Linked DNA regions of Homo sapiens: region 2 is linked to region 1. A link means that fine-mapping ties the variant in region 1 to the expression of a gene that starts in the linked region. Tissue or cell type: whole blood. Region 1 holds a variant in brackets; the other region holds the start of a gene. All regions are shown on one strand. Distances are between the middles of the regions.

What was found. PIP is the estimated chance that this variant, and not a neighbour inherited with it, causes the effect.
Region 2: PLP2 starts here. The variant in region 1 is fine-mapped to the expression of PLP2 in whole blood (TOPMed, PIP 0.97).

The regions. Positions count from the first base shown.
Region 1 is chrX:49,638,371-49,641,129 of GRCh38, forward strand. No RefSeq gene overlaps it. Among named protein-coding and RNA genes, the nearest start is that of GAGE1, 41 kb to the left of the region's middle. The variant A/G (reference allele first, on the strand shown) is at 1,463.
Region 2 is chrX:49,170,518-49,173,146 of GRCh38, forward strand. PLP2 (proteolipid protein 2) reads left to right here and starts at 1,381. Exons shown (of 5, transcript NM_002668.3): 1 at 1,381-1,579; 2 at 2,612-2,629. The coding sequence starts at 1,484. RefSeq lists silencers at 1,258-1,357, 1,878-2,077.

The DNA of each region.
Region 1 (2,759 bases):
ATTCTCCTGCCTCAGCCTCCCAAGTAGCTGGGACTATAGGCGCATGCCACCACACCTGGTTAATTTTTTGTATTTTTAGTAAAACGAGGTTTCACCATGTTAGCCAGGATGGTCTCGATCTCCTGACCTCGTGATCTACCCACCTTGGCCTCTCAAGCTGCTGAGATTACAGGCGTGAGCCACTGTGCCTGGCCATCTCTTACTTTCTTAGACTCCTCCCAGTATTATCTATCACAGGGTGGGTTTTCCTGAGTCAGTTGCTGAGATGGAGTTTTGGGTACAAGATTGGGGATCAATTGATATGAAAGGAAGGGGTGAATAAACAGGATCAGGCAGAGGGAGAGCTGAGTGGGATGCAGGCCACACAAAGCCTTGGCCAACCCAGTGGGGAGCTCTGGAGCAGGGACAGCGCAGTAGAGTGTCCCCTGTTTTGGGGAAAGGGCATGACCTTCGAGAGGTAGCTTTTTGCAGCTGGAGCGAACCCTGATGGAGCTGACAACTGGAGGCTGCCTGCCCACTGCACTCCCTGCAGCTGCACAGTGAGTCTTTCCTTGAAAGGTGGTCTGGGTGGTGCATCTCTATGTTTACCTCAAAGTGTCAAATATTTTATTCAACTTATCGTTGAGGAAACAGCAGTATGCTAATGCTGGTTCCGAGAGCATTTGAGGACCTGGATTTATATAATCCTTTATAAAAAAGAATATTAGATTAATACTGTTAGGTTAGGTACAAAACAGATTAATGTGTCACAGGGCAATGAAACCATATCCTTTGGAGTTATCTTTCTGACAGAACAAAAATCATTTGTTTCTCTACTGGACAAACATCTGCAAGTTAATAGAAAACTTCACAGAGTCTAGGCTTTTGATCAATAGTAGACAGTGTATCAAAGAAAGGCACATTCTACTTACAGAATTCAGTAGTTCCTGGGCGAGCCTGTTAAACAATGCTCCAATATGACATTAAAAAGACATGCTGTTGCTTGAGCCCAGGAGTTTGAGGTTATAGTGAGCTATGATCATACAATTGCCCTCCAGCCTGGACAACAGCACGAGACTCCATCTCTAAATAAATAAATAAAGAAGACACACTGATCTCCACTTGCTCTATTTCCAAGTTTTTGGATACATTTTCTTATCATCTCTAAGGCAGAGCATCCCCCCTCTGGTGCTGAACAACCAGCCTCTTCCCCCTCACCTTTTACATTTGTCCTTGGAATTGGATCTTCGTTTTGTCAGGAACTGGTTACTGCCTTCCAGGAGCTTTGAAGAGTTGAATACAATTGCTGCCCATGGTTTCCTTGTCTCCTTTTCTTAAAATTTAGCAATCACATTGAAGCTAAGCCTCCTTTCTAGTGATTGCAACTTACTGTTTTTATCAGAAAGCTTCTATTTTCCAAGGCAAAAATGGTGGCTAAGGTAGACCCTCAGATGGACCCCTACTTCTCCTTAGTCAGAAAGTA[A/G]TCTTTTTGGAAATCTGAAGAAATTTCTTGTATAGCTCCTTTATCGTCCTTTATCCTCTGAAAAGTCATACTATAGTCTTGCCCATAGAACAGCCCTTCGTGAATCCTTACTTATGTTATGTCTAATTCTCCAAACACCCCCCCCTTTTTTTTTTTTAAACTAGACGGAGTCTCACTCTGTCACCCAGGCTGGAGTGCAGTGGCCCAATCTCGGCTCACTGCAACCTCCACCTCCTGCTTCAAGCAATTCTCGTGCCTCAGCCTCCCGAGTAGCTGGGATTACAGGCACACGTCACCACGTCTGGCTAATTTTTGTATTTTTTTGTAGAGATGGGGTTTCACCATGTTGGCCAGGCTGGTCTTGAACTCCTGACCTCAGGTGATCTACCCACCTCAGCCTCCCGAAATGTTGGGATTACTGGCGTGAGCCACGGTGCCTGGCCTGAACACCTTTTGCATTTGTCATCATCTAAGTCTTTATGTTTCTTCCTATCAATATCTTCTTACCACTTTATCCCCTACACCCATTCTCCGTATCCGTGCAAATGCTCCTCATCCATCAAGTTTCAGTTTCATCTCCTCCATGAGTAACACTTCCCTAAGGACATTGTGTCCTTTACAATTTTTTTATAGCTTTATTGAGGTACATTTATTGACATACAATACATGGCACACATTTAAACTGTACAATTTGGTAAGTTTTGACATATGTTTACATTATGAAACCATCACCACAATCAATATAGTGAACATATTCATCACCCCTGAAAGTGTCCTCATGCCCTTTTGTCATCCCTCCTTCTGGGTCCTCCCTGCCACCACCTCCTCAGAAAATCAGAGATCTGCTATCTGTCAGTATAGGTATTTTGCATTTTCTATAATTTATATAAATGGAATCATATAGTATGCATTCTTTTTTGTCTTTTTTTACTCATATTACTGTAAGATTCATCCAAATTGTTGCGTGTTTCAATAGGTCATTTATTTTCATTGCTGAGTAGTATTTTATTGTGTAGATATAACACAATTTATCTATTTAACTATTGATGAACATTTGGGTTGTTTCCAGCTGTGGGCTATTACAAATAAAGCTGCTCTGAACATTTGTGTACAAGTCTTTGTGTGGACTTATACTATCATTTCTTTGGGGTAAATACCTAGGAGTGGAATGGCTGGGTTATATGTATATGTTTAACTTTGTAAGAAGTTGCCAAATAATTTTCCAAAGTGGTTGTATCTTACATTCTTACCAGTGGTGTATAAGGGTTCCAGTTTCTTCACATCCTCATCAGCACAT
Region 2 (2,629 bases), 470 kb before region 1:
CATGGTTCACTGCAGCCTTGAACTCCCAGGCTCAAGCAATCCTCCCACCTCAGCCTCCCGAGTAGTTGGGATTACAGGCACGTGCCACCATGCCTGGGCTAATTTTTTTCTTTTTTCTTTTTTTTTTTTTTTTTTGAGACGGAGTCTTGCTCTGTCGCCCAGGCTGGAGTGCAGTGGCGCAATCTTGGCTCACTACAACCTCCACCTCCCAGGTTCAAGCGATTCTCCTGCCTCAGCCTCCTGACTAGCTGGGATTATAGGCGAGCGCCACCACACCCGGTTCATTTTTTGTGTATTTTTAGTAGAGACGGGGTTTCACCATGTTGGACAGGCTGGTCTCGAACTCCTGACCTCGTGATCTGCCCACCTCGGCCTCCCAAACTGCTGGGATTATAGGCTTGAGCCACCGCGTCCGGCCGCCTGGGCTAATTTTTAAAATTATTTGTAGAGATGAGGTCTCACTGTGTTGCCGAGGTTGATCTCCAACTCTTGGGCTCAAGCGATCCTCCCACCTGAGGCTCCCAGAGTGTTGGGATTACTGGCATGAGCCACTGCGCCCAGCCGAGGAACACTTTTCAATCCTTACCCAGTTATTGTGAACGTTCATACCTTTTCTTGAAGAAATACCGTTTTTGTTGTTGTTGTTGTTTTTGAGACGTAGTTTCGCTCTTGTTGCCCAGACTGGAGTGCAATGGCATGATCTTGGCTCACCGCAACCTCTGCCTCCCGGGTTCAAGCGATTCTCCTGCCTCAGCCTTCCGAGTAGCTGGGATTACAGGCATGCGTCACCGTGCCCAGCTAATTTTTGTATTTTTAGTAGAGACGGTGTTTCTCCATGTTGGTCAGGCTGGTCTCGAACTCCCGACCTCAGGTGATCCACCCGCCTCGGCCTCCCAGTGTTGGGATTACAGGCGTGAGCCACCGCGCCTGGCCCTTTTTTTTTTTTTTTGTAACGCGGCAGCTCCAAACCCCGCTGAGAGTATATGCATGGGAAAACTTTCTGAAATCAAAAATATTCCGAATTCTGGCAACATACTGGGCCCCAAGTCTTTCGGATTTAACTCTGCCTCGGCCGTTTTATTCAGTTAAGGAAACTGAGTCACTCCATCCCAAAGCCAGATTCCCGCGGTTCTAAGCTGAAGCTGTCTCGGGTGCATTTGCATTCCAAAAAGGCGAAGGGTCCCGCTATTACTGCTCCTGGTACCTGGAGCTGCCAAGCACCCCTGCGATGGGGCGCCCCGGGGGCTGTGCGCCAGGCTGGGAGTATCCTTGGGGGGCGGGGCGAGGGGGCTTCCGGGGCGGCAGCCACCTGGCCCGGCTCCGGCCCCGCCCGCGTCAGCTCTGCGCGGTGATTCACTCCCTCCTTCGCCCCGGGGCCCCCTTCCCGGCCAGACGGCGGGCAAGACAGCTGGGTGTACAGCGTCCTCGAAACCACGAGCAAGTGAGCAGATCCTCCGAGGCACCAGGGACTCCAGCCCATGCCATGGCGGATTCTGAGCGCCTCTCGGCTCCTGGCTGCTGGGCCGCCTGCACCAACTTCTCGCGCACTCGAAAGGGAATCCTCCTGTTTGCTGAGATTGTGAGCGTTCTGGGGCAGGCGCGTGGGCAAAAGCGGGATGGGGTGGCTGGACCATGCGGAACTGGATGGTCCGGGTGAGGCAGGCACTTGGCCGGGGCGCTCGGCAGTGGGGTGCAGGTGGGTGGGTTCACGGTGGAGGCCCGAAACCCGGGGCGCAGGGCGAGTCGGTGGGGTTTGACGAAGGTTGTTGAGATCTGGTGGTCCCCGGGGTGAAGCAAGGAGCCTATAACGCATACGGAGGGCTACGTGGGGACAGCCTGCGTGAACTCATCAGTGGACGCATCGAAGGGGTCCCAGGGTGCTGGGAAGTGGGGGCCTCCTGTGGCAGGGCGTGGCGCGGCCTGGGCACAGGAGGGCGGGCTGGCAGCGCGCCCAGGGGCAGGGCCTGTTGGGGTGGGGCCCCCCCGCCCCGCGCTAGTCCCGCGGTGTAGAGCGCCCCGCCCTTCGCCAGTTCTTCCTCGCCCTTCAGAGGCCGGGCGGGATGTCCTTAGCTTTTCGGGGTTTCCACCCTTCTCAAAGTGGGCGCCGCCTTTGAGTCACTTGTAAAAGGGGTGCGGCGCCTTTAACGGAGTCCTGCCTCTCTGGTGTCACTCTCACCGCTTCCCAAAGGGGTTGCTGGGGGAACCGCGTGTTCCGCCCCGGTCAAGGCCACAAAGCTGGCGTCAGCGGGGCTCACAAAACACCTGGCAGCGCCACTCCCCTCAGGCTGCCCGTAACCTAGAAGGGAAAAGAGGAAACTGAGGCACCCAACTCTACTCCTTACTTGTTGGGTGACCCTGGCCAAGCCATTAAACCTCTCTGTGCCTCAGTTTTCTCGTCTATAAATTAGAAAGAGTAATAATAGTACCCAGAGCATTAGATTGTCGTGATGATTGAATTTGGAACACAGTGAGCACATAAAAAGTGTTTAGCTATTATTGTATGTCATTTCCCCAGCCCTCGTAGGCATCTTAGTATGGGACCCCCAATTTAAACCAATCTTCTCAGCCCTGGTTGCTGATTGAGGTCCCCTTTCCCATGTCACCCTTCCAGATATTATGCCTGGTGATC